Linked DNA regions of Homo sapiens. The protein of the gene in region 1 purifies or fractionates together with the protein of each later gene. This does not show direct contact. Each region holds a gene or a part of one and is shown in the gene's direction. Other genes may lie near its edges. The genes, in order: PDCD2L, SLX4, VEGFD, NEK7 and FPR2.

Region 1 (5,807 bases):
TTGCTTATTGATTGACTGAGAGAGACAGGGTCTCACTCTGTCACCCACGCTGGAGTGAATTGGTGTGATCAAAGCTCATGCAGCCTTGAACTCCTGGGCTCAGGCAATCTATCTTAGTTTCCCAAGTAGCTGGGAGTACAGGTGCACACCACCATGTCTGACCAATTAAAATTTTTTGAGTTTCGCTGTTGTTACCCAGGCTGGAGTGCAATGGCACGATCTCGGCTCACTGCAACCTCCACCTCTCAGGTTTAAGCAGTTCTCCTACCTCAGCCTCCCAAGTAGCTGGGATTATAGCCATGTGCCACCATGCCCAGCTAATTTTTGTATTTTTAGTAGAGATGGGGTTTCACTATGTTGGTCAGGCTGGTCTCGAACTCCTGACCTCAGGTGATCCACCCACCTCAGCCTCCCAAAGTGCTGGGATTACAGGCGTGAGCCATTGTGCCTGGCCTAAAAATTTGTTTTAGCCACTGCACCCAGCATTTTTTACTATTAGAATAAAAAAATTACAATAGAATATTTGGAGAAATGGCCTGGTTCTTTACCAGAACTGTTTCATTTGTAGGCTTTTTCAGAATAATGATGAAGGGGAATGCATGAAGACATGTTGGTGTTTGAAAATAATCCTTAATAGAATTGATGGTTATAAGGACTTTTTATTTTTTATTTATTTATTTATTTATTTATTTATTTATTTTTGTGTGTGTGTGATATGGGCTCTCTTGCCAGGCTGGAGTGCAGTGGTGCGATCTCGGCTCACTGCAACCTCCCCTTCCTGGGTTCAAGCAATTTTCTTGCCTCAGCCTCCCAAGTAGCTGGGACTACAGGTGCGCGCCACCACACCCAGCTAATTTTTGTATTATTAGTAGAGACGGGGTTTCACCATGTTGACCAGGATAGTCTCAATCTCTTGACCTCGTGATCCACCTGCCTTGGCCTCCCAAAGTGCCGGGATTACAGGTGTGAGCCACCGCGCCCGGCAGGATTTTTTATTTTTTAATTTCTTAAGTTTTTATGTATTTGCTTATTTTTGGTGGGTTTCTTCAGACTAGAGTATTCTTCTTTTTTTTTTTTTTTTTTTTAGAGATGGGATCTTGCTTTGTTTCCCAGGCTGAACTGCAGTGGTGTGGTGTGGTTATGGCCTTTTTTTTTTTTTTTTGAGACAGTCTTGCTCTGTTGCCCAGGTTGGAGTGCAGTGGCACGTTCTCGGCTCACTGCAACCTCTCCCTCGCCGGCTTAAGCAGCTCTCATGTCTCAGCCTCCCGAGTAGCTGGGACCATAGGCGTGCGCCACTTCACCCAGCTAATTTTTGTATTTTCTTTTTAGTAGAGATGGGCTTTTGCCATACTGGCCGGGCTCTTCTTGGAGTTCTGGCCCCACGTGATCCGCCCACCTCGACCTCCCAAAGTGCCGGGATTACAGGTATTAGCCACCACGCCCAGCCTGCTCATGGTTTACTGCAGCCTCAAACTCCTGGCCTCAGGGGATCCTCTGGCCTCAGCTTTCCCCATAGCTGGGACTACAGGTGTGTGCCACCAAACTCAGCTAATTAAAAAAATTTTTGGTTTTTTTGAGACAGAGTCTCACTTTGTCACCCAGGCTGGAGTACAGCGGTGTGATAATGGCTCACTGCAACCTCCAGCTCCCAGTTTCAAATGATCCTCCTGCCTCAGCCTCCCAAGTAGCTGGGATTACAGGTACCCGCCACCACACCCGGTTAATTTTTGTATTTTTAGTAGAGATGGGGCTTCACCATGTTGGCCAGGCTGGTCTCAAACTCCTAACCTCAAGTGACCCACTCTCCTTGGCCTCCCAAAGTGCTGGGATTGCAGGCGTGAGCCACCGCACCCAGATGAAAAATACATATATATATATATATATATAAAATAAATAATAAAATATATATATTAAAAAATATATATGAAAATATATATATTTGAGACAGAATCTCGCTCTGTTGCCAGGCTGGAGTACAGTGGCTCAATCTCAGCTCATTGCAACCTCCACCTCCCAGGTTTAAGCAATTCTCCTCCCTTAGCCTCCTGAATAGCTAGGATTACAAGTGCATACCACCATGCCCAGCTAATTTTTGTATTTTTAGTAGAGACAGGGTTTCACCATGTTGGCCAGGATGGTCTCGATCTTTTGACCTCGTGATCCACCTGCCTCGGCCTTCCAAAGTGTTGAGATTACAGGTGTGAGCCACTGTGCCCTGCGACTTTTTAAATTGTAAATAATTACTCAAGAGTTGAAAATGGCTTGGGAGAAGGGTTGGGCAGGGAACTGCAGAGCTACATGTACACAATTTAAATATCAAAAATATTTACTTGACAGTTTTTGGCTGAGTGCGGTGGCTCACTCCTATAATTCCAGCACTTTGGGAGGCCGAGATGGATCACTTGAGGTCAGGAGTTGGAGACCAGCCTGGCCGACGTGGTGAAACCTTGTCTTTACTAAAAATACAAAAATTAGCTGGACGTGTTGGCGCACACTTGCAATCCCAGCTACTCAGGAGGCTGAGGCAGGAGAATTGCTTGAACCCAGGAGGTGGAGGTTGCAGTGAGCCAAGATTGCACCATTGCACTCCAGCCTGGGTGACAGAGGGAGACTCCCTCTCAAAAAAAAAAAAAAATTACTTGACAGTTTTACAGTTTTTTAACTTTGACAGTTTTTTTTTTTTTTTCTTTTTGAGACAGGGTCTCACACTGTTATCCAGGCTGTAGTGCAATGGTGTGCTCACGGCTCACCACAGCCTTGCCTCTGGAATAGCCGGGACCACAGGTGCATGCCACCATGCCCAGCTAATTTTTGTATTTTTTTGTAGAGACAAGGTTCTGCCAGATTGCCCAGGATGGTTTTGAACTCCTGAGCTCAAGTGATCCGCCTGCCTCGGCCTCCCAAAGTGCTGGGATTACAGGCGTGAGCCCACTGCACTGGCCTGAGAAATTTTTTTTTGAGACGGAGTTTCACTCTTCTTGCCCAGGCTGGAGTGCAATAGCGCAATCTTGGCTCACTGCAACCTCCATCTCCTGGGTTCAAGTGATTCTCCTGCCTCAGCCTCCCAAGGAGCTGGGATTACAGGCGCCCGCCACCACGCCTGGCTAATTTTTTGTACTTTTATTAGAGATGGGGTTTCAAGATGTTGGCCAGGCTGGTTTCAAGCTCCTGACCTCAGGTGATCTGCTCACCTCGGCCTCCCAAAGTGCTGGGATTAAAGGCGTGATTGATTTTTTTTTTTTTTTTTTTTTTGAGATGGAGTCTCATTCTGTCACCAGGCTGGAGTGTAGTGGCATGGCACGATCTCGGCTCACTGCAACTTCCGCTTCCCGGGTTCAAGCGATTTCCTCTGCCTCAGCCTGCTGAGTAGCTGGGACTATAGGCGCAAGCCACCATGCCCAGCCAATTTTTTGCATTTTTTAGTAGAGATGGGGTTTCACCATGTTGGCCAGGATGGTCTCGATCTCCTGACCTTGTGATCTGCCTGCCTCGGCCTCCCAAAGTGCTGAGATTACAGGCGTGAGCCACTGCGCCTGCCCTGATAAAATTTTTTAAAAGAAAATTATCTTGTTTTGTCTTGCAAATGCTGTAATTTTCTGGATATAGACATTCAAAAGTGTTTTCTGCTTCTGTTTTTAGCCTTCCTAATGATGGTGATGAAAAATATGAGAAGACCATAATTAAAAGTGGAGATCAGACGTTTTACAAATTCATGAAGCGAATTGCTGCTTGTCAGGAGCAGATTTTGAGGTAAAAAAAGGCACAGTTCCTTTTATTGTTTTCCTTGATTATAAAGGAATACATATTAGTTTGGAAAACACAGGAAAATATGAGAAAAGCAAAACCTACAGTATTCCCCAAACCAAGAGAGAACCTAATACCTGCTTTATAGGACCTAATACCTACTTTATAGGATGTGTAGGAGGATTCAGTAAGGTAAAGTGCACTCACTTGTCTAACAAATACTTACGAAGTCTATTCTGCATGCCAGTTGCTGGTATTTGTAGGTGCTGCAGATATAGCAAGAAACGGCACAGATGAAGTCCATGTTCTCATAGCCTTTATTATTATTATTATTTAATTTTTTTTTTTCTTTGAGAGGGAGTCGCGCTCTGTCGCCCAGGCTGGAGTGTAGTGGCGTGATCTTGGCTCAATGCAACCTCCACCTCTTGGGTTTAAGCCATTCTCCTGCCTCAGCCTCCCAAGTAGCTGGGATTACAGGTGCCCGCCACCCTGCCCAGCTGATTTTTTTGTATTTTAGTAGAGATGGGGTTTCACCATGTTGGCCAGACTGGTCTCGAACTGCTGGCCTCACGTAATCTGCCCACCTCAGCCTCCCAAAGTTCTGAGATACAAGTGTGAGCCACCATGCCTGGCTTTTTTTTTTTTTTTTTTTTTTTTTTTTGGGGGCAGGGTCTTGCTCTGTTGCTCAGGCTGGAGTGCAGTGGTGTGATCAATCATAGCTCAGTGCACCTTGACCTCCTGGGCTCAAGTGATCCTCCCACTTCAGCCTCCCAAGTAGCTGGGACTACAGGCATGTACCACCATGCCCAACTAATTTTTGTATATTTTTTTAGAAATGGTATTTCACCATGTTGGCCAGGCTGGTTCCAAACTTCTGGGTTCAAGCCATCCACCTGCCTTGGCTTCCCAGAGTTTGTTCTAGGATTACAGGCATGAGCCACTGTGCCTGGACTATTATTATTATTAAAAAAATATTTTTTTAGAGAGAGGGTCTCAGTCTGTTGTCCACCCTGGAGTGCAGTGGCGTGATCATTGCTCACTGTAACAACTACCTCTTGGGCTCAATCGATCCTCCCAAGTAGCTAGAACTACAGGAGTGTGCCACCATGTTTGGCTAATTTTTAAAAAATGTATTTTGTAGAGATGGGATCTGATCATGTTGCCCAGTCTGCTCTCAAACTCCTGGCCTCAAGTGATCCTCCTGCCACGGCCTTCCAAAGTGATGGGATTACCGGCATCAGCCACGACCCTTGGCCCATATATTTATTTTTATTTTTTAATTTATTTTTATTTTTCTGGGATGGAGTCTCGCCCTGCCACCCAGGCTGGAGTGCAGTGACGTGATCCTGGCTCACTGCAATCTCCGCCTCCCAAGTTTAAGAGTCTCCTGCCTCAGCCTCCCGAGTATCTAGGATTACAGCGCCACCACGCCTGACTACTTTTTGTATTTTTAGTGGAGACGGAGTTTTACCATGTTGGTCAGGCTGGTATCGAACTCCTGACTTCAAATGATCTGCCCGCTTCAGCCTCCCAAAGTGCTGGAGTTACAGGCTTGAGCCACTGTGACTAGTGGGGGAGATTAAAAACAAACCTGTATGATTCCCATAAGTGATAAATGAGGAAAAAATAGAGCTATTTTAGGTAGGCTATCAGAAAGGCCTCAGAGGAAATGACATACCCAGCAGGTATAATTTATAAAAATAGCCACATAGTAAAAACAGGTCCAGACAAAGTGGGCAGAATTAGCTCAAATGGTCTTTTTCCCCGATACCTACCACAGTGAATCTAAAAGCTAAAAATCAGGCCAAATAAAATAAATATTAAAAAAGAAATTCCCTTGTATCAGCACTGAACAAAGGAAAAGGGCTTAGTACCATAAAACTCAAAGTGATAGCCCAGGATATAATATCCATAAATGTCTAGTAGAGTTCTTGAGTGTTTAACATATATATTTATTCACTTATGTAACTAAGTTATCTTTGCAGAGAAAGGTACAGAAATTTCCGGCATGGTTAAGTGCAAGTTCTAATTCCACAGGCCTTTTCTCTCACCTGCCTAAAATA
Region 2 (5,807 bases), on another chromosome or scaffold:
AGGTCCTTCCTGAGTTTCCAATCCCATGATCCCACAGTCGGTACCCTCTAGTGCAGGGGTCCCCAACCCCCCAGCCTCGGACCAGTACCGGTCTGTGGCCTGTTAGGAACCTGGCCACACAGCAGGAGGTGAGCAGCGGGCAGGCAAGCTTTACTGCCTGAGCTCCGCCTCCTGTCAGATCAGTGGTGGCATTAGACTCACAGGAACACAAACCCTGTTGTGAGCCGCACATGCATGGAATCTAGGTTGAGCTCTCCTTATGAAAATCTAAAGCCTGATGATCTGAGGTGGAATGCTTTGATGCTGAAACCATTCCCCTACTCCTGTCCCATGGAAAAATTGTCTTCCATGAAACCAGTTCCTGGTACCAAAAAGGTTGGGGACTACTGCTTTACCACATCTAAGAATTTGGTAGTCACTTTACTCCATCCATTTCGTTGTTGGACAGCATGGTTTCCACCTCAGCACAGTCCAGTTTTCACACTGTTAACATAAGATTACTCAGCACAGTTCACAGATTTGGTGATTGGCCAGGCACGGTAGCTTACACCTGTAATCTCAATACTTTGGGAGGCCAGGGCGGAAGGATCACTTGAGCCCAGGAGTTCAAGGCCAGCCTGGACTACATAGCAAGACCCATCACTACAAAAAATTAAAAAATTAGCTGGCTGTGGTGCTGCACACCTGTAGTCCCAGCTACGTGGGAGGCTGAGGCGGAAGGATCACTTGAGCCTGGGAGGCCAAGGTTGCAATGAGCTGTGATTGCACCACTGCACTCCAGCCTGGGCGACAGGGCAAGAACCTGTCTTCATAAAACAAACAAAAACAACAACAAAGTTGGTGCAACAGAAGTGTAGGACCCTATTTTTTAAAAATCTTGCATGAATTAATGCTTAAAAGTTAAAATGAGTTGCCTTGCTCACAGCCAGGAAACAAGTCCTCAGCATGCAAACCACAGCCACACAAGTGCCAGAGGGCTGGCCCTGCTCCACGCTGCCCTGCTGCTGAGGACGCTAGAGCTGACACCAGGTTCATAGTGAACAAAGGCATCTTGGACCTTTGACTCCTCCAGGTTTGAGACCGCTGTCAGGAGCAAAGGGAAGGCCAAAGGCGATAGCTGTTTGTCCCGCCCCCTGCTTTGCACACAGGTCATGGGCAGCTGAGCTGGCTCGGGGCTGAGATGGCAGAGGGCAGAGGGGATTCTCTTGGTGGAGGAGCGCATCTGTATTTAGCATGGCAGGGGTGCAAGCCTTGAGGCCTTAGAATAGACGTCATCTAAGCCATTGTTTCTTTCTTGGCAGGACCACGCCAAAAGCACCTGCTCAGATAAAGTATGTCTGCCTTTAGAATACCTCCAAGTACTGAAACTAGATGTATGTGGATCCGTTTAGAAGGTTGTCAGAGTAGAAAACTACAGGAGCTGGATGCCCTCATGGGGTCTTTGAACCCCTCCCTCCCCAAAGGCCAAGCCTGTGGTCATCAGAACGCATGCCCCGGCCAGAGTGCCTCATATTCTTTCCCCACAGCCCAAACCTGGCCTGCTGGGGAGTGAGGAGGGAACACAGTCTGTGTTCCCTTCACAGAAGCAGGGTCCCAGGCTGCCCAGGCAGCTCCTTTCCCTCTGGGAGGCTGTGATTATCCACGTTCCTGGGAAGGTGAACTTGAGCCATCCCTGGCACCCTGGAGAGCATGAGCTTTTGCAAAAGCCAGAGGCATGACTGCATTGCAGGGAAGGTGGGCCCGGTTTGTGCTAAGTTCCTTTGTCACCTCTGCCCTCCTCCTTCTTGCCCAGCTTATTGGGAGTCACCCAGGCAGCCTAGGTTCTCTCCAGCCGGAAACTCCTGTTCATTTCCTCCAAACCAAACGAGCTGCTGCCCGTTGAAAGTGCAGAGTCCCGGGGCGGCTGGTATAATGTTGACCATCGGCAGCCTAAGCTGGGAAGCCCTTCCTTCTGGCCATGGACAGAGGCACTGCCGTGGAGCCCTTGCAGGAGGGAAGGGATCCTTTTCTGCCGGTGTGGCCAGGACCGTGTAAGGAGCATCGGAAGTATTGATGGGTGAAGGTGGTGGGAGTCCAGGGAGCCTGCTCAGAGCCATCGATTGTTGACTCCATTGGATGGGCTTGGCCACATGAGGATGTGCAGGTACCACAGATGGCTCCGTACATCTGCCATGAGCCTGCTGGACAGCAGCACGTGAAGGAACCCAGACCCTCCTGTGCCTGGGCCATGTTGAACTTCTGGCCTGGAATTGAATGAGTTCACACAAGGCAGTGGAAGTGGGGGACGCATCTGCCTGGCAGGTCCACATCCGTCACTTTTCTCTCAGGCCCAGCCCTCTCCAGACCAGTGTGACCAACCTGAGAAGCGTGCACTCCTCTAGCCCCAGTAACTTTTCTCTTTGGCTGTTTTCTAGCTTCAGTGATCACAGTAGAGGTCTGAAACGGAGAGGACCCACCAGCAAGAAGGAGCCACGGAAGAGGCGGAAGGTGGACGAGGCACCGTCCGAGGACCTGCTGGTGGCCATGGCTCTGTCCCGGTCGGAGATGGAGCCGGGTGCGGCTGTACCAGCGCTCAGGCTGGAAAGTGCCTTTTCTGAGAGGATAAGACCAGAAGCAGGTTTGTGTGATCAGAAGAGTGACCCTGGGAGAGGCCATCAGCAGGTCCCGGGTGAGTGGACCGACTCCACCGTTGATGGTGTCGCTTTTGTTTCTCTCTAGAGAATAAAAGTCGCAAGAAGAAACCCCCGGTATCCCCCCCATTGTTGTTAGTCCAGGACTCTGAAACCACAGGCCGACAGATAGAGGACCGTGTGGCCCTGCTCCTCTCTGAGGAAGTGGAATTGTCTAGCACGCCACCACTTCCTGCCAGCAGGATTTTAAAGGAAGGGTGGGAAAGAGCGGGCCAGTGTCCTCCTCCACCTGAACGCAAGCAGAGCTTTCTGTGGGAGGGCAGCGCACTGACTGGGGCCTGGGCCATGGAGGACTTCTACACGGCCAGGCTGGTCCCTCCTCTCGTGCCCCAGCGGCCTGCCCAGGTGAGTCCCTCCCCTCAGGCACATGGATAGGCTTTTGGGGGAGGTTGGCAATCCCAGAACTGCAACACTGGGTACCCACAGCCAGGTGATGGAAAGTCCAGGAAGGAAAGGCAGAGGCGGGAGGAGGCCAGAGGGGCACTTGGTGGCTGCAGCTTTCTTCTCTGTCCAGCAACTACATGGTACTCTGGGTAGGATCAGGGAGGACCCTTGGTGTCCACCAGAGTGTGTTCCTGGAGTTTGTTGAAAATGCAGAGTCCCGGCCGGGCGCAGTGGCTCACGCCCGTAATCCCTGCACTTTGGGAGGCTGAGGTGGGCGGATCACGAGGTCAGGAGTTCGAGACCAGCCTGGCTAATATGGTGAAACCCCATCTCTACTAAGAATACAAAAATTAGCCAGGCATGGTGGCACACACCTGTAATCCCAGTTACTTGGGAGACTGAGGCAGAAGAATCGCTTGAACCGGGGAGGCGGAAGTTGCAGTGAGCCGAGACCGTGCCATTACACTCCAGCCTGGGCAACAAAGTGAGACTCTGTCTTGAAAAAAAAAAAAAAAACAGAGTCCCAGGGCAACTGGCAAAATGCCTCAGATGGAGCCCGGAAACTGGCATTCGGAGCACACACTCCAGACAGTCGTGCGGCAGGTAGCCCTACAGTCAGTACGCAGCTGCCTGAGGCAGCTTGGAGGACTTCAGGAGGGCGGCAGGCCTGGGCCCCCCTGGCCTCTGACAAGCCTTTGTGCAAACAGATGCCACAGGCCTGGCCTTGGCCGTGACAGAGGAGGAGCATGTTGACATGAGTGCTGGGGAAAAGCATCCCAGGACTGCTCCAGGCTGTGGCTGGAGCCCCGGGGACAGTCTGTCCCCACAGCCCACATCCTGCTCTGTAGTTTTAGGTCCAGCCGTGCATACCACATGTGATGGCTTCTGCAGTGTGTGCGTCAATGACAGTGACCACGTGGTCACTCTCCTTACTGGCTTCTTTCAGGGCCTTATGCAGGAGCCCGTGCCGCCTCTGGTGCCACCTGAGCACTCAGAGCTGAGCGAGCGAAGGTCACCCGCTCTCCACGGCACCCCCACTGCAGGCTGTGGCTCCAGGGGCCCGTCGCCTTCGGCCAGCCAGAGGGAGCACCAGGCCCTGCAGGACCTCGTGGACCTGGCGAGGGAGGGACTGAGCGCCAGCCCGTGGCCCGGCAGTGGGGGCCTGGCTGGCTCGGAAGGGACTGCAGGTGAGATGCTGGGTGGGACTCTAGGGCCAGCCCTGCCCTCCCGGGCCTCCCCTCCCCGCGGCTGAGGCTGCCATGGACTGGCTCTTGTGCCGCCGCGACGGCAGCTCTGACCTGGTGGGAGAACACGCAGCCTCTGGGCGCTTTCATTTTTTCTCAAAGGTCAATGTGGTGTAGACAACTCTGTCATGATTTTCCTTCCACTTTAACCAAAGACAGAGCTGTCTGCCCACAGCGAGTGAATCCTCTGGGTGAACTGTCTGTTTTGCTCTTCTCTTACCTCCCTGGTGGAGTGGTGGTGAGACAGGGTGTGCGGGTTTGCTTTGCATGAAGGTGTCCTCGGATAGCAAGCACCTTCCGAGGCACCGCAGGGGCTGGCTCAGCCTGTGGTCAACGCTGTCTTCTTGGTGGTGGATGTGGCTGGGCTGTGACGTTCCTTTAACCTGTGAATCCTCCACTCAGGGTTGGACGTGGTGCCCGGCGGCCTTCCTCTGACTGGGTTTGTGGTGCCATCGCAGGACAAGCACCCGGACAGGGGCGGCCGCACCTTGGTAAGAACTGGCTCTGGCCCGCGCTCTCTGGTCCCGGCCATCCCACTTGCCATGTGTGTGGTGGGGTTGGCTCACCGCTGGCCTCTGGCCCCCAACGCAAGTGCAGTGGCCTCTCAAGGCCTCTGCTTTCCAGAAGGCTGCCACATCCTGACATCCGTGAGCAGAGCCACGGACCCACAGCCACCTCAGCGCCCCTCTGGGGGCTCTGCCACGAGACTTCTGCCTTTTCTGTCTGTGACTCCATGGGGCACCTTGGGGTTGAGGCCCCAGAGCCTGCCCTGTCCTGGGTCCCAGGAGTGTAGAGGGACCACAGTTTCTCAGCGCGGTTGCCCCATCCAGGCACGCTCTGCTCGTTCCTCAGTAGTTGGGAGCTCACCAAGGGCTTGCTCTCCCTCCCCTCTGTGCGGGTCCTGGGCTCCAGAGCACAGCTGAGCAGCCTGGCCTGGCCTCCCTGTCAGTGCGCTGTCTGGGGAAGAACCGGGGTGGGAACTGGCTTTTCCCTAGAGTGGACCTCCTCCCATTTGCATGTCAGTGTCAACCAAGCACTTCATGCCAAGGCCAGCCTAGGGACATCATCACAGACTGGACCCGGCTGTCCTCTTGGCCAGGTCCCCGAGCTGCTTGGACTCAGGGTGCTTGTCCGTCACAGGGGATGGGTGCACCTCCTCAAAGCCCAGGTATCCCGCAGCCTGTCCCACTCAGTGCGGGAGCTGCCAGCACTGTGAGTTCACATCTAGCCCCATGTCTGGCATCTCCACGGGGGCCAGGGAACCCACTGGCAAGAGCCAGAGGAACAAGCTAGTGCTTTGCTCTTCTGTGCTACTCAGGGCCTTAGGGTCACTCAGAGGTTGAGGCCATCGTGGGAAGCGTTTTGGAGAGGAAAGGAGAATGCAGGTCCTGGCTCCCGGCCCACCCTAGCGCCACCTCCATGCGGGGAGCTTCCCACTGCCCAGTTAGCAGAGCAGAGGTGGGGAGGTGACGGCTCTTCCTCTCCTCCT
Region 3 (5,807 bases), on another chromosome or scaffold:
TAAAACCATACATCTGCCTGTTTTCTTTCTTTCTCTTTCTCTCCTTTCTTTTCTTTCTTTCTTTCTCTTTCTCTCCTTTCTTTCTTTCTCTTTCTCTCCTTTCTTTCTTTCCTTCTTTTCTTTCTTTCTTTCTTTTCTTTCTTTCTTTCTTTCTTTCCTTTCTTTCTTCTTTCTTTCTTTCTTCTTTCCTTTCTTTCTTTCTTTCTTTCTTTCTTTCTTTCTTTCTTTCTTTTTCTTTTTCTTTCTTTCTTTCTTTCTTTCTTTTTCAAGATCGTGCTCCATTGCCCAGGCTGGAGTGCAAGTGGCGAGATCATGGCTCACTGCAACCTTGACCTCCCCAGGCTCAGGTGATTCTCCCACCTCAGTCTCCTGAGTAGCTGGGAGTACAGGCATGCACCAGCATGTCTGGCTAATTTTTGTATTTTTAGTAGAGACAGGGTCTCACCATGTTTCCAGTCTGATCTTGAACTCTTGGGCTCAGGCAATCCTCCCACCTCGGCTTCCCAAAGTGCTGGGATTACAAGTGTAAGCCACCATGCCTGGCCTTGTATTTTTGGATAATATTGAGTGAAATTTGCCTCAATACATAAAAATCCTTTCAATATGCTTCAACTCTAAAATCTTTAAAAAGCTGCTTGGTTTCATTATTTTCACGTGGAAGCAGCATTGTCACAAAGTTTTATTTTGAAGACTGAATTGTATATGGAGTACTGTCCAACTAGAAGAGAATGAATAATCAGGAAAAGAGAGACTATTGACAAATAAGACTTAATGGAGAAGCATTGAATTTCAAAGCTGCCAGAGACATTAGCAATTGTTCAGTTTCATCTCCAGATTTCTTAGATGAAGAAGCTGTGGCAAGCCAATTTCACAAACCCGATCTATGATCCTCATGCTCCCCACTCCTCTCACTCCCACAATTTTGCCTTGATTCAAACTTTATCGAAAAGTGAGAAATCACAGGTATGAGCTCACTGAGCTTCCCAGGCAGTCTTGCCATCTACAAACCCATGTCATTCTGTATTTTCCTCTTGTTTCTGACAGTGATCCTCTCATCTAGTCACACTACATCCACTTATCTCTGGCACTTATGTCAAAACAACCCCTCTAGGTCCTGCCTTAGCTCTCCTGCATATGCTTTTTCTTTCTTCCTGTCTGTTGCCTCTTTCCCCCAGCTTATAATTCTCCCGCTTTTATTAAAAACATGCACCCACAGACACACACTCACATCTGGATTCCCAAGTGCGATAACCTTGTAGATTCATATTTTCAGATCGTTCTTAGTCCACAGAATATAAAATTGATTGAATGATGGCAAACATCTGCAGATGACAATCATTTACAGAAATGGCACTAAAGCCATGAAGCTGAAGCTGCAGGACTTATGGATCTGGGCTAGAAGACAGGGGCCATCAAAAATTTAGCTTCAGTTGGAAATCGGCTCTTTTAGTGCACTACATCAGATCCATGAAAGAGGAAGGAAGAGTTACTGCTCATTGCTGCCTGGAGCTGTGACTTCTATGAAATTACTTAACGGGGCAAAGGAGGAAGCAGATACTTCCTTGCAACTAGGACGTGAGCTGAGCTGATCCCTGAATCATAAATACTCAACAAGATTCGGATTCAGGACCCAGGGTATTATGGGGTACAACCATAAAACTTCTAAATGTTGGAGAAAGAATAATGAGAAAGAAAAATGAATCTCTGAATGAAAATGGAACTACTAACCAAAATTCCAAATCACGTTAATATAATTATTACTAAGAATGACAGCAACAAAATGAATAATCAGTATATGTCATACCTATAAAGTTAAAATCTAAAATAATTTGAAGAAATACTTAAAAATATTTGCAACCCTCAAAGAGATAAAGAAATAATATTCATAAAATTGAAATGACAAACTAGGGGCAGGGCGCAGTGGCTCACGCCTGTAATCCCAGCACTGTGGGAGGCCGAGGTGGGTGGATCACAAAGTCAGGAGATCGAGACCATCCTGGCTAACACGGTGAAACCCTGTCTCTAATAAAAATACAAAAACAAAATTAGCCGGGCGTGGTGGTGGGCGCCTGTAGTCCCAGCTACTCAGGAGGCTGAGGAGGGAGAATGGCGTGAACCCGGGAGGTGGAGCTTGCAGTGAGCCGAGATCGCGCCACTGCACTCTAGCCTGGGCAACAGAATGAGACTGGGTCTCAAAACAAACAAACAAACAAACAAACAAACTAGGAAGAATATACAGAAATGTAACAGAAAGTAGATAGGAAGAAGAATGAAGTAGAAATGCTTGAAATTAGAAATACGGTGATTGAAATTAAAACCTTAACAAAGTAAACTCTAGACTCACAACAATTGGAGAGTTGGTGATTGGAAAGATGAACCAATTAATTTACCCATAACACATTAGAGAGAGGTGAAGAGGAAAAAATAGCTAAATATAAAAGCACATTTAAGAGACATGTAAGATGATTAAAAGCCTCCAACATTTTTCAAAAAAGAGAGTAGAGGCAATATTATAGGTGGAATAATGAAAATGATAATGGCTGAGAATATTAAAGAATTGAGAATAAAAAAGACAAGTGGCCTCAGATTGAAACTGCCATGAAGGTCTCTGTCTCAAATTCTCAACTCTGCTTTTGTAGTATGAAAGCAGCCGTAGACAATAAGTAAATGAATGGACATGGCTGTGTGTCAATACAACTTGATTTACAAAAACAGGCAGGCAGCAGGCTAAATTAGGCTGGGAGGTCATAGTTTGACAGCTCTTGATCTAAAGAATAACCATTGTTGGCCAGGCGCAGCGGCTCATGTCTGTAATCACAACACTTTGGGCGGCCAAGGCGAGCAGATCACTTGAGCCCAGGAGTTCAAGACCAGCCTGCGCAACATGGCGAAACCCCATCTCTACTAAAAGTACAAAAATTAGCCGGGCATGGTGGCAGGCTCCTGTAGTCCCAGCTACTTAGGAGGCTGAGGCAGGAGAATCGCTTGAACCTGGGAGGCTGAGGTTGCAGTGAGCGGAGATGGTGCCACTGCACTCCAGCCTGGATGACAGAGCCAGACTCGGTCTCGAAAATAAATAAAGAATAACCTTTGTTTACATTTTCATGTATATGTCTCCAGATGTTCCTCATATATCCATATAAGTATGTATATATGATGTACATAAGTGCATAAGTAAAAATACATAAGTAATTTTAAAAGAGGTTATATCATAGCTGAATCACACATGACTTAGACCACACTTGCTCTTCTGAGTACCCATTTTTGGACAACTCTCAGTGTCCACTAGCATGTCTAAAAAAAATTTCTCCTCCTAAAATGCTAATGCATGATGTAGATTTTAACTACAGCTTTTGAGGCTCAGTGGAGGAGAGTGTACATCACACTACCCAATGCAAAGCCTTTTAACAGCCCCTTTTGCTCATCTTTGTTTTCCTTCACTGTTCCTCGCCCTGCAGCAGGCAGCTGACATTCACCTTTCCCTTCCACCCTCCTCTCTCAGCACTGGTCCTTTGCCTCCTCCCTCATCCCAGCTCTACAAATGGCCTCAGCCTGCATATTCCAACCACCCAGCAAAACAAACATCTAGTAACTACCGGGTCAGCAAGAGAAAATCGGAGGCCCTAGCCATAGATAGATCACCTTATCATTTCTCCAGCACATTCCAGGAAGGATCTCAATTCGTTCTGTCCCAATATACCTCTACATCCTTTGTTTTGATGATCACATAGAATTCATTGTATGCATATATCATTATTTATATAACTAAGCCCCCAATTTTGAACAAGAGGCTACATACTGAAAATCTTTTATCTACCAAGTCTTTTTTTTCTTACAAACCCATCCAATACAGTTGCACTGTATCCGCCAATACAGTTCATGCAACTGTATGGAAAGCAAACTCTAGAAGAGTATTTGATAGCTCCATAAGAATATTAAACTCTTATACTTCTAGAGCGTAAAACCCCAGAAAAGTATTTTGTCAGAAAAAAATCATGTTTTTGAAATAGTAGGTTTTAAAAGAAAACAAAGAGAGTTAGAAGTAAGAAAATTCAGGTTATCAGGGGCTTGATATCTTTTTTTTGTGACTGTAGTCAGGTTACCCAGGCCTTTGTGGATCAATTTCTCAAACAAATAACAGAGATGAAAACAACTGTCAGTAGCTACTGTCACAAAAATAATATGATAAACATCTTTTCGTTTCCTATGGCTGCCATAACTAATTATCACAAACTTGGTGGCTTAAAATAACAGAAATGTATTTTCTCACAGCTCCAGAGTCCAGAATTCCAAAATGGAAGGGTCAGCAAGGCTGCACGCCCTCAAAACACTCTTGGAGAGAATCTTTTCTTGCTTCATCCAGCTTCTGATGGCTCTAGGCAATCCCCCGCTTGTCACTGCATCACTCCGGTCTCTGCCCCCATCTTCAAATGACCTTCCTCTGTGTCCCTGTCTTCTCTTCTGTCTCTTATAAGGACACTTGTCATTGTACAGTATTTAGGGTCCACATAGATAATCCAGGAGGATCTCATTTTAAGATCCTTAACTTCATTACATCTGTACAGATCCTTTGTCCAAATTAAGGTAATGTTCACAGGTTCTGTGGGTTAGGATGTGGACATATCATTTTGAGGCCCACCATTCAATGCACTACAATTTTCTTTGTAAGTGTTCTGAGAACCCAGGAAGAATAAGTAAATCCTCTGATTCAATCAAAAATGAGCAGAATGTAAACCAAAAATACTAGAAGATATCCTTTTTCCTAGGCACTGGCATACGTTTCAATAGTATCTCTAATTACAGATGTATTTACACTTCTAAGTGTCAGAAATGAAGATTATTATGACAAATTTAAAATTTAGTAACTTGTTTTTAAACTGGTATTTTTGTTTTTTTAAGCGATCATCTCAGTCCACATTGGAACGATCTGAACAGCAGATCAGGGCTGCTTCTAGTTTGGAGGAACTACTTCGAATTACTCACTCTGAGGACTGGAAGCTGTGGAGATGCAGGCTGAGGCTCAAAAGTTTTACCAGTATGGACTCTCGCTCAGCATCCCATCGGTCCACTAGGTTTGCGGCAACTTTCTATGACATTGAAACACTAAAAGGTAGGTGTGTGGATGTGGAGACAAATTCTTTCTCTTTATTAGATAGTGACAAACACACTTACTTTCTCCAAAAGTCTGCGTAGGGCAGACACGTGTCAGAGGGAGAATGAAAGTCGGTCTTTGATTTCCAGTATTAGTGCAGAATCTTGATTTTTTAATGTTTACTTCACAGAGAAATATATTCAATATGATTTTGAGATAAAAAACACAAAAGAACATCTCAAAATATAGAAATAAATTTAACTCAAGGATGTGGGGGCAAAGAAAACCCAGGAAGACTATTGTTCTCAATAGAAAAACAATCATCAGGTTTACTTAGAAAATAAAACCTGGGGATTCATCCACAAGGAGTATTCTACTGCCATACATACATAGACAAAAACCAAAGATGGCCAGGCATGGTGGCTCATGCCTGTAATCCCAGCACTTTGGGAGGCCAAGAACGGCAGATCGCTTGAGCCCAGGAGTTTGAAACCAGCCTGGGCAACATGACGAGACCCCATCTCTACAAAAAAATAGAAAAAAATAGCTGAACATTGTGGTACGTGCCTGTATTCCCAGCTACTTGGGAGGCTGAGGTGGGAGGATCGGCTGAGCCCAGGAGGTCGAGGCTGCAGTGAGCCATGATCATGCTACTGCACTCCAGCCTGGGCAACAGAGCAAGATCCTGTCTCAAAAAAACCACCCCCTCCCCGAA
Region 4 (5,807 bases), on another chromosome or scaffold:
TTGGAGAGTTCTGTAGATGTCTATTAGGTCCGCTTGGTGTAGAGCTGAGTTCAATTCCTGGGTATCCTTGTTGACTTTCTGTCTCGTTGATCTGTCTAATGTTGACAGTGGGGTGTTAAAGTCTCCCATTATTAATGTGTGGGAGTCTAAGTCTCTTTGTAGGTCACTCAGGAGTTGCTTTATGAATCTGGGTGCTCCTGTATTGGGTGCATATATATTTGGAATAGTTAGCTCTTCTTGTTGAGTTGATCCCTTTACCATTATGTAATGGCCTTCTTTGTCTCTTTTGATCTTTGTTGGTTTAAAGTCTGTTTTATCAGAGACTAGGATTGCCACCCCTCCCTTTTTTTGTTTTCGATTTGCTTGGTAGATCTTCCTCCATCCTTTTATTTTGAGCCTATGTGTGTCTCTGCATGTGAGATGGGTTTCCTGAATACAGCACACTGATGGGTCTTGACTCTTTATCCAATTTGCCAGTCTGTGTCTTTTAATTGGAGCATTTAGTCCATTTACATTTAAAGTTAATATTGTTATGTGTGAATTTGATCCTGTCATTATGATGTTAGCTGGTTATTTTGCTCGTTAGTTGATGCAGTTTCTTCCTAGTCTCGATGGTCTTTACATTTTGGGATGATTTTGCAGTGGCTGGTACCGGTTGTTCCTTTCCATGTTTAGTGCTTCCTTCAGGAGCTCTTTTAGGGCAGGCCTGGTGGTGACAAAATCTCTCAGCATTTGCTTGTCTGTAAAGTATTTTATTTCTCCTTCACTTATGAAGCTTAGTTTGGCTGGATATGAAATTCTGGGTTGAAAATTCTTTTCTTTAAGAATGTTGAATATTGGCCCCACTCTCTTCTGGCTTGTAGAGTTTCTGCCTAGAGATCCGCTGTTAGTCTGATGGGCTTCCCTTTGAGGGTAACTCGACCTTTCTCTCTGGCTGCCCCTAACATTTTTTCCTTCATTTCAACTTTGGTGACAATTATGTGTCTTGGAGTTGCTCTTCTCGAGGAGTATCTTTGTGGCATTCTTTGTATTTCCTGAATCTGAATGTTGACCTGCCTTGCTAGATTGGGGAAGTTCTCCCGGATAATATCCTGCAGAGTGTTTTCCAACTTGGTTCCATTCTCCCCGTCACTTTCAGGTACACCAATCAGACGTAGATTTGGTCCTTTCACATAGTCCCATATTTCTTGGAGGCTTTGCTCGTTTCTTTTTATTCTTTTTTCTCTAAACTTCCCTTCTCGCTTCATTTCATTCATTTCATCTTCCATCGCTGATACCCTTTCTTCCAGTTGATTGCATTGGCTCCTGAGGCTTCTGCATTCTTCACGTAGTTCTCGAGCCTTGGTTTTCAGCTCCATCAGCTCCTTTAAGCACTTCTCTGTAATGGTTATTCTAGTTATACATTCTTCTAAATTTTTTTCAAAGTTTTCAACTTCTTTGCCTTTGGTTTGAATGTCCTCCCGTAGCTCGGAGTAATTTGATCGTCTGAAGTCTTCTTCTCTCAGCTTGTCAAAGTCATTGTCAGTCCAGCTTTGTTCCGTTGCTGGTGAGGAACTGCATTCCTTTGGAGGAGGAGAGGCGCTCTGCTTTTTAGAGTTTCCAGTTTTTCTGCTCTGTTTTTTCCCCATCTTTGTGGTTTTATCTACTTTTGGTCTTTGATGATGGTGATGTACAGGTGGGTTTTTGGTGTGGATGTCGTTTCTGTTTGTTAGTTTTCCTTCTAACAGACAGGACCCTCAGCTGCAAGTCTGTTTGAGTACCCGGCCGTGTGAGGTGTCAGTATGCCCCTGCAGGGGGGTGCCTCCCAGTTAGGCTGCTCAGGGGTCAGGGGTCAGAGACCCACTTGAGGAGGCAGTCTGCCCGTTCTCAGATCTCCAGCTGCCTGCTGGGAGAACCACTGCTCTCTTCAAAGCTGTCAGACAGGGACATTTAAGTCTTCAGAGGTTACTGCTGTCCTTTTGTTTGTCTGTGCCCTGCCCCCAGAGGTGGAGCCTACAGAGGCAGGCAGGTCTCCTTGAGCTGTGGTGAGCTCCACCCAGTTGGTGCTTCCCGGCTGCTTTGTTTACCTAAGCACGCCTGGGCAATGGCGGGCGCCCCTCCCCCAGCCTCGCCGCCACCTTGCAGTTTGATCTCAAGACTGCTGTGCTAGCAATCAGGGAGACTCCATGGGCGTAGGACCCTCCGAGCCAGATGCGGGATATAGTCTCCTGGTGCGCCGTTTTTTTAAGCCCGTCGGAAAAGCGCAGTATTCAGGTGGGAGTGACCTGATTTTCCAGGTGCCGTCTGTCACCCCTTTCTTTGACTAGGTAAGGGAACTCTCTGACCCCTTGCGCTTCCCGAGTGAGGCAATGCCTCGCCCTGCTTCGGCTCGCGCATGGTGCGCGCACCCACTGACCTGCGCCCACTGTCTGGCACTCCCTAGTGAGATGAACCCGGTACCTCAGATGGAAATGCAGAAATCACCCGTCTTCTGCGTCGCTTACGCTGGGAGCTGTAGACTGGAGCTGTTCCTATTCGGCCATCTTGGCTCCTCCTCCCCATCTATGGTGGGCCTTAGCTTTTCTAAGAGGTATGAGGAGCCATTGAAATGCTTAAAGTTGAAGCATCACCTGGCTAGTTAGGCAGTGCTAGAGAAATAGGAAGACAACTGAAAGCAAAGCCGTCAGCTGGAAGACTATCCAAGAGTGTGGCAGTGGAGATGGTGTGGCAGGAGCAAACAAAAGGTTTAAGGAGCCTGAGACCAATAGGACTGGTTGCTGACGGTTAGGCAGGTGGGAAGGAAGTATGATGAGATGTTTGATATGAATTTCAAATTTTTGACTTAAGAAGTTGGAGGTGCTGTTAGGAAGAGCTGGTTGGGGAGAAAAAAATACTAATATTTCAGTTTTAAACATGTTTAATGTGAATATTTACGTGCAGCTCTACTCAGAAGGCAGTTGGAAGTATGGGAACAGAGCCTGCAAAGAGGTCTAGGCTGGAGACAGATAACCTGTGTTCCTCAGCATGTTGGTGGTTATTGAAGGCATGGGAGTAAGTGCAGTTGTTGAAGATAAGAAGGAAGAGTGAAACAGGAAAAGAGTTAAGGAAAGGAAAATATTTAGGGCATACCAACATTTGGTAGATTTTTCAAAGGAAGATAAACCTCCAAAAGAAACTAGGAAGAAAACGTCAGGGAAGAGAAGGTCTAGGCCGGAATTGAATGATGTAAATCCAAAAGGATAGAGCTGACCAGGATGAAAGGGATTGGAAATGGTCTCAGTCAAATCAAACACAACCATACTGGAGGAAGGGAGGGAGAGACACAGAAGGACAGTTGTGTGTGCTTACATTTCTGATGTGACACAGCATTTTAAGAAACAGGCTGTGTCCTTGGAAGACAGAGACTAAATTGGTATGAAGGTGAAGATTACAGTCAGGTAATCAAAGAGATTTATATTGATTCACATCAAATAAATGTGAAAGTGACCCAAGATGAGGGTTGCAGTACTTGGAATGGAGAAGGATACTGTCAGCTGTGTGGGTATCGATACCTCCGTGTACGAGGTGCAACAACTCATAGTTAAACAGATTTTAGAAAAAGAGGAAAGTAATTATTTCCTCCTCTGGGCAGCCACACTTAATCTTTTACCTTTATCTCACAGATATCTCTTGAGATACCTATCACTTTGTAGTTTATAATAGAATTATTTCTGTGATTTCCTCACTTTCACATTTGTTTCTTTGTTCTGTCTATCTTCCGCTAGATTGTAGGCTGTTTAAGGGCCTGTGCTGTGTATTTTTCATTATTGCTTTATCCTTACTACCTAACAAAGTGTCTGGTACATAATAAATACTCCATTGGAAACTATTGAATGAACAATTGAATGAACGGATGAAAATGGAAGAGGGGGCAAAAAGAAAGAACAAAAGAGTCAGATGGTTAGAAAGGAAAATGAGTCATTCTCTCACTTCTCATGCTGGACAACAAGCCTTCCCTTGTGGACAGGTCCTTTGTCTTATCCGGTGCCATCAAGTATCACCAGCATAGTGTCTCTTGCAGAGTAGATCATCTAGAAATGTTGCTGGAGTGGATAAGTGGGAGCATTCCCAAAGCATATTTTAATTTCGTAGGTTTTCTTTCTTTTTATACTTTATTAATTTTTTAATGTAACAAATAATTGAGGAAAAGTTATCAACAGATTGATTCATAAATATAGTAAAGTATGCATATTCTGTATTTCACATATCTGATTTTATATGGTGATAGCCCTTTTGATTCTTCTGGAAAAGGAAACTCTTTATGACAAGATACACTTCGTATTTGGTGGAGATTGAATCAATAAGTGGGGAAGGAAAAGCAAACTCCAAGGTGCTGTGGCTCTGCCTGTCGCAAGGTCACCAATTGACCTGTCATCCCTTTGAAAGGCCATCCTTAAAGGAGCAGTTTAGAAGCATCTGCTCACTGGCACTCCCACTACCTATTTACCTTATTCAGTGTCTTTCTCCCTTTTTGTTATTCCCAATTCTTGTCTTTTTACTTTGGTGAACTAGAGAATCACTGTCTGCTTCAACTAAACGTGCATCATTATATCTCTAATCTTGGTTTTTCCTCATGCCAGGAGAACTTAAGGGCCAGTCATTCATTCTTAGTGGTTGGAAATTCTACCCTATTCTGAATTATTACACAGGAAAAGTTAAGGTTTCTGAACCAGCTTGAAGGATGTGGCAGTGTTAGGAAGTCAAAAAATTGTTTACTGCATGCATCTACTTGTATTTTAGCTAAATATAATGAACTTTTTGTACCATGGTTATCTTTTCCTGCTATTCTTTCTGCTTGCTTTCTTGTTTTTATCTCTAAAGAAAATATCTGACAGCTAGATGACCCATTAGAACACATTATCTTTTAAATTATGTGTCATTATGTAAGTGCTTTTCCCACTTTCTTCTGCATTGTGTATTACTGGATATATTTATTTTTTTTTTTTTTTTTTTTTTTGGTAACCTGGTAAAATGCCAGTCTCTTTCTGATGTAAATTTCTCTTAGATCACCATAATAAAATGCTTTGTGTATTGCTGTACCCCTTAAGGGTTTTAAATGCTGTTCTCTGCTCTTTTGGAAGGAATATAAATTAAAATCTTCAGGCTCTCCCAGTGGGTGTAACATTACTATGAAACATTGTTGAATTTCCAAGTGTAGCTAAAATTGATTCATTAAATTTCATTCTGCTAGAATCGTAAAATGTAAGAGATTAGGATGAGAACAGCCCTTATAGGTCATCCACTCCAACTTCCCTATTTAATAGATGAAGAAATGAACCTCCAGAGACAGTGACTTACCCAAGGGCACAGAGCTACAAAGTGCCTTCAACAAGACTGGTTTCCATTTCACTGTACTCCTTACCAAACTCTGACCCTTCATCTGGCAGACTCTTTGACCCACCTCCTCTTTCAGAATGACATTTCTCAGTGCCATTAGCCTTCTCCATAGCACTAGCAACATCTTCAGCCCAAGCTTTTTAATCATCACTTGTATTTTCTCTGGTTGAAAGTTATTTTATGGTAGAAATTGAGAACTATGAAGAAATTGTGCTAATTTAAAAATTTACTAAGTGCTATATCGTGGCCAGAGTTAATGCAAATTCTCAAAATGTCTAAACTGTTCCTAAAGAGACCTACAAAGCAAAAGAATATAGTTTTTCCTCTTAGTTTATTGTCTATGAAGATCATATACAATGTTATGATGACACATAGTTTCATAAACTGATGGAAATTAGAATTGACAATAAAATGCTATGTTCTTCTACCCGATGGATCGAGGACCATATAGG
Region 5 (5,733 bases), about 17 Mb from region 1:
GACAATGTTTATGGAACCTGTTGATTGTCATTTCTGGAGAAGGAGTTGCTACTGGTGTCTGTGGATAGAGGCCAGGGGGGCTGCTCAACATCCTACTGTGTCCAGAACAGTCTGCCACAACGAAGAATTACCCAGACCCAGATGTCAAAGGTGCCAAGGTTGAGAAACCCTGAGCTACATTAAATAACGTCCCATGGAATACCTCAGTGAAACTCACTGGTAATAGCAGGAAGAAAAGGAGGAAATAAGGAAAAGGAAGAAGGCTAAAAATCACCAGACTGAGGCATAGCCCTATCCTAGTAATCTTGGGGGAATCCCTTTCAAAGGCAGGACTTCCGTATGCAAAGGCAGTGGCTCTGGAGTTGTTCATCTCGGTTTCCGTATCTTGCTGCCTCCACTGACTGGCTGGGCATGATGTTGAAAAAAACTACAGAAGTCCCCGGGCCATGAATTCCCCCAGATGTGATGGCTGTTTCCCAATGTTATTATGAGCATTAGATGTGAACAAGTGCTATGGAATTGCTATTTCTCTTAAAGATGCTGAATAGCCCAGTCTGAGATGATTCTCAAATTCTCATGGCCATAGCAAATCATCCTGGCTTTTACACATACAGATTCTAGAATGAGATTTATGGATATAATTGTTTTTCATTTTTATTATAAGTTCAGGGGTATATGTGCAGGTTTGTTATACAGGTAAACTTGTATCCTGGTGTTTTCTTGTACAGATTATTTCATCACTGAGATATTAAGCCTAATACCCACTACTTATTTTTCCTGATCCTGTCCCTCCCCTCACCCTCCACCTTCCGGTAGGCCCCAGTGTTCCCCTCTTTGTGTCCATGTGTTCTCATCATTTACCTCCCATTTGTAAATGAGAACATGTGGTATTTGGTTTTCTGTTCCTGCATTAGTTTGCTAAGGATAATGAATACAATTTTAACAGGCAGCCTGGATGTTTCTGATAAAGTCCACAGACCACGGCATAAGAAAATGTGCTCAGGTGACGTGGGACTTTGTGTTGAACTGGATACAAATATTACAGATGTGATCCGGACCAGAGGCAGGGACTACATGTTTTGGGTTTTTGTTCTTAAAAGAAAAAAACAAAAACAAAAAAACTTGATCTGAGAAGCTCTGAAGGGTCATATTCTTACAATGTTATTGTCCACAATTTAGTCACGTGTCCACTACCAAAGCAATCCCTTGCAAAGTAAAAGGGATTCTGGTTAGTGCTAATTAGACTAGTCAGGATTTACTCCCAACATGGAGAAAAGACACCTTCTCTGCAGGGTGAGTAACTAAACACAATTGTGGTTTTTCAAGCAGAGAAGAATGGGGAACCGTTGCTGGGTGGGCAACCAGCAATATCTGTCAAGCGTAAGGGTTTAGAAGTCAGACCATGCCAAACTGAAGTCCTGAATCTATTATCTACTACCTAAGTGACCTTCAACACATTTCACAATTGCCCTGAGCTTTCATTTATTCTAATGAAAACTAGAAGTAATGAATATTACATAGCTATTACATAGGCCAAACCGGATCCCATATGTAGTAATTAACACAATGCATAGTCTCTAATAAGAACTTCACAAGTATTAATACAACTTATTATTCTTATAGTCTTTATCCCACAGACACCAAAGCTATACAAATCGGCACTGATTATTTGCATTCCAAACAGAGAAGAGCTCCACATCAAGCAGGGACAGGGAAAAGCAGAGGGTAGAAAGCAGAGATGGAACTCTCTTTGCTGACTTCCTCTAGTGCAGAATCCTCAGGATATAACATACTACTACATGTTACCAGTGACTCCTCAAAATTCTCTTCAACAATAACCTCAAGCCAAACCCTCAAACTTTATCTTGAGTACTAGCCAAGCAATAGGTCAAGGGTTCTCACAGTTTGAGGGACAGGAGTTGGGAGACTGGAAGAACCTGGGGCTGAAAGAGATTGCAGAGCTTGCCAGCATGTTTGCATTGAATGGTGGGAGACACAGATGTGAGCCTTCTGATTCTGAGTCATGTGCCTTCCTCACAATGCTGAGGCTGCCTATGCTCAATTTTCCATTGTCCATACAACATAAGTTCAGTATGAGCCTTGTAATCCTCTTGGTGAAGTGATCAGCCCGATAAGCGAAATGCATATTGATAATGATGGGAATATGGAGGACTATCCCTTCCCAAAGGAGCATCCAAGAGAATGCCAATTCTATAGCACCGTTGTCAACAAGGCTTGGTAGATAGAGTGGGTCTCCTGGTAGGAGTGGGAGCTTTAGTGGAAGTTGATGTGAGCTATAAATACAGATGCTGTAAGATGGTTCCACAGCTGAGAAATGGCCATTGTTGGAATGTTTCAGGTGCTGCTGGCAAGATGGAAACCAACTTCTCCACTCCTCTGAATGAATATGAAGAAGTGTCCTATGAGTCTGCTGGCTACACTGTTCTGCGGATCCTCCCATTGGTGGTGCTTGGGGTCACCTTTGTCCTCGGGGTCCTGGGCAATGGGCTTGTGATCTGGGTGGCTGGATTCCGGATGACACGCACAGTCACCACCATCTGTTACCTGAACCTGGCCCTGGCTGACTTTTCTTTCACGGCCACATTACCATTCCTCATTGTCTCCATGGCCATGGGAGAAAAATGGCCTTTTGGCTGGTTCCTGTGTAAGTTAATTCACATCGTGGTGGACATCAACCTCTTTGGAAGTGTCTTCTTGATTGGTTTCATTGCACTGGACCGCTGCATTTGTGTCCTGCATCCAGTCTGGGCCCAGAACCACCGCACTGTGAGTCTGGCCATGAAGGTGATCGTCGGACCTTGGATTCTTGCTCTAGTCCTTACCTTGCCAGTTTTCCTCTTTTTGACTACAGTAACTATTCCAAATGGGGACACATACTGTACTTTCAACTTTGCATCCTGGGGTGGCACCCCTGAGGAGAGGCTGAAGGTGGCCATTACCATGCTGACAGCCAGAGGGATTATCCGGTTTGTCATTGGCTTTAGCTTGCCGATGTCCATTGTTGCCATCTGCTATGGGCTCATTGCAGCCAAGATCCACAAAAAGGGCATGATTAAATCCAGCCGTCCCTTACGGGTCCTCACTGCTGTGGTGGCTTCTTTCTTCATCTGTTGGTTTCCCTTTCAACTGGTTGCCCTTCTGGGCACCGTCTGGCTCAAAGAGATGTTGTTCTATGGCAAGTACAAAATCATTGACATCCTGGTTAACCCAACGAGCTCCCTGGCCTTCTTCAACAGCTGCCTCAACCCCATGCTTTACGTCTTTGTGGGCCAAGACTTCCGAGAGAGACTGATCCACTCCCTGCCCACCAGTCTGGAGAGGGCCCTGTCTGAGGACTCAGCCCCAACTAATGACACGGCTGCCAATTCTGCTTCACCTCCTGCAGAGACTGAGTTACAGGCAATGTGAGGATGGGGTCAGGGATATTTTGAGTTCTGTTCATCCTACCCTAATGCCAGTTCCAGCTTCATCTACCCTTGAGTCATATTGAGGCATTCAAGGATGCACAGCTCAAGTATTTATTCAGGAAAAATGCTTTTGTGTCCCTGATTTGGGGCTAAGAAATAGACAGTCAGGCTACTAAAATATTAGTGTTATTTTTTGTTTTTTGACTTCTGCCTATACCCTGGGGTAAGTGGAGTTGGGAAATACAAGAAGAGAAAGACCAGTGGGGATTTGTAAGACTTAGATGAGATAGCGCATAATAAGGGGAAGACTTTAAAGTATAAAGTAAAATGTTTGCTGTAGGTTTTTTATAGCTATTAAAAAAAATCAGATTATGGAAGTTTTCTTCTATTTTTAGTTTGCTAAGAGTTTTCTGTTTCTTTTTCTTACATCATGAGTGGACTTTGCATTTTATCAAATGCATTTTCTACATGTATTAAGATGGTCATATTATTCTTCTTCTTTTATGTAAATCATTATAAATAATGTTCATTAAGTTCTGAATGTTAAACTACTCTTGAATTCCTGGAATAAACCACACTTAGTCCTGATGTACTTTAAATATTTATATCTCACAGGAGTTGGTTAGAATTTCTGTGTTTATGTTTATATACTGTTATTTCACTTTTTCTACTATCCTTGCTAAGTTTTCATAGAAAATAAGGAACAAAGAGAAACTTGTAATGGTCTCTGAAAAGGAATTGAGAAGTAATTCCTCTGATTCTGTTTTCTGGTGTTATATCTTTATTAAATATTCAGAAAAATTCACCAGTGAAGCCAACTTGGTCTTGTGTTTTCTTTCTGGGAAGATTTTTAATAACAAGTTTGTTTTCTTTAACAGTGATTAGACTCTTCTGTTTTTTGGTTTTTTGTTTTTTCCTATCTGTCAGTTTTGGTAAACTGAATTTCAAGGAGTTTGGCCATTTCATTCAAACTGTCAAACTCATCGGCATAAAATAGTATAATAACTGTTTAAAAGTTATAAAACAGCATGAAACTTGGCTGGGTGCGGTGGCTCATGCCTGTAATCCAAGCACTTTGGGAGGCCAAGAAGGGTGGATCACCTGAGGTCAGGAGTTTGAGACCAGCCTGGCCAACATGGTAAAACCCCATCTCTACTTAAAATACAAAAATTAGCTGGGCATGGTGGTGCACACCTGTAATCCCAGCTACTTAGGAGGCTGAGGCAGGAGAATTGCTTGAACCCGGGAGGTGGAGGTTGCAGTGAGCCAAGACTGTGCCATTGCACTCCAGCCTAGGGGACAAGAGTGAGACTTTGTCTGAAAAAAAAAAAGTATGAAACTTGAAATGCTTTCTTTTATGTATTTATTAATTTCTGATTTTTGTTCTTCTTGTTGTTATTATCCTAGAGCACAGCCTTTGGAGATACAGTTTCTTTTAAACAACGAAAATGTAAGCTCTCTGAAGTCAGGGATTTTGGTCTGTATGGTTTGCTGATTGAACCCCATCCTCTATGTGTAAAATACTGTCTGATATGTAATAGACATTCATTAAATACTCATTGAATAAATGAATCAATAAACAATAGTATCACCTAGGTGTCAAGTGAGAAGTTTTAATGTCAAATCAAAATTATCTCCAACCCTTATTACATGAACCAGACCATGTCCAGTAAACACCCATCCTCAAGCACACAATATTTAGAAATACTCATGTGGCTTACTTTTTCATCAATTTCTGGTTTTGAGCTTCTGCTTTAAGGAAAGTACCATGGCTAACTGTTGCCTCACGCCTTTGTTTTGAAATAAATCAACCCACAAAGGTACTCAGCCCTTTACTTTGCTTACAGGAAATGACCACTCAGAAATGGTCCTTCGGTGCGGAACATACTTTCCGGATGCACTGGCAAAAGACAGAACTCTACACGAATATGAGGCAGTCCTGTTATCAGCGTCCTCACTCACTCCACCGCTTCTCCCTTTCCCTCCTGTTTCCCCTAAAGTTATTTACATTTCCAACATTTCCAAAACAGAGAAGTTTACTTAGTTCATTTGCATTCTTGACTCCTATAAATGCTTTCCAGTTCCTAAGAAAAGTATACCCTTTAATGCCCGACTAAGTTGTGGCCATAGAAAATAAGGAACAAAGAGAAAACGCAAGAAGGAGAAACCTGGAGCCAAGAACAGCATATGACCTTGAAACAGGAGAACCACGGCTTCTAGACTGGCTAGTTAACAGCCTTCCTCCACTGCCAGGACAGAGGAGTCTTACTTTCCTTCCCACTGGCCTTGGTTAATTGCACTGGAA

Evidence for each region.
Region 2: the proteins of PDCD2L (region 1) and SLX4 purify together in Homo sapiens (co-immunoprecipitation; one large-scale study listed by IntAct). This does not show direct contact.
Region 3: the proteins of PDCD2L (region 1) and VEGFD purify together in Homo sapiens (co-immunoprecipitation; one large-scale study listed by IntAct). This does not show direct contact.
Region 4: the proteins of PDCD2L (region 1) and NEK7 purify together in Homo sapiens (affinity purification with mass spectrometry; one large-scale study listed by BioGRID and IntAct). This does not show direct contact.
Region 5: the proteins of PDCD2L (region 1) and FPR2 purify together in Homo sapiens (co-immunoprecipitation; one large-scale study listed by IntAct). This does not show direct contact.

Annotation. Positions count from the first base shown.
Region 1 is NC_000019.10:34,410,098-34,415,904, forward strand, and holds part of PDCD2L (programmed cell death protein 2-like), read left to right. Parts: intron 1-3,639; coding exon 3,640-3,750; intron 3,751-5,807. UniProt on the Homo sapiens protein: Over-expression suppresses AP1, CREB, NFAT, and NF-kB transcriptional activation, and delays cell cycle progression at S phase.
Region 2 is NC_000016.10:3,594,607-3,600,413, reverse strand, and holds part of SLX4 (structure-specific endonuclease subunit SLX4), read left to right. Parts: intron 1-925; exon of another isoform or gene 926-2,253; coding exon of another isoform or gene 2,254-2,414; coding exon 2,415-2,617; intron 2,618-2,718; coding exon 2,719-3,035; intron 3,036-4,020; coding exon 4,021-4,261; intron 4,262-4,720; coding exon 4,721-4,809; intron 4,810-5,807. UniProt on the Homo sapiens protein: Regulatory subunit that interacts with and increases the activity of different structure-specific endonucleases.
Region 3 is NC_000023.11:15,362,412-15,368,218, reverse strand, and holds part of VEGFD (vascular endothelial growth factor D preproprotein), read left to right. Parts: intron 1-4,899; coding exon 4,900-5,110; intron 5,111-5,807. UniProt on the Homo sapiens protein: Growth factor active in angiogenesis, lymphangiogenesis and endothelial cell growth, stimulating their proliferation and migration and also has effects on the permeability of blood vessels.
Region 4 is NC_000001.11:198,312,926-198,318,732, forward strand, and holds part of NEK7 (serine/threonine-protein kinase Nek7), read left to right. Parts: intron 1-5,807. UniProt on the Homo sapiens protein: Protein kinase which plays an important role in mitotic cell cycle progression. Required for microtubule nucleation activity of the centrosome, robust mitotic spindle formation and cytokinesis.
Region 5 is NC_000019.10:51,766,286-51,772,018, forward strand, and holds the end of FPR2 (N-formyl peptide receptor 2), read left to right. Parts: intron 1-2,359; 5' UTR 2,360-2,373; coding exon 2,374-3,429; 3' UTR 3,430-4,246; downstream 4,247-5,733. UniProt on the Homo sapiens protein: Low affinity receptor for N-formyl-methionyl peptides, which are powerful neutrophil chemotactic factors. Binding of FMLP to the receptor causes activation of neutrophils.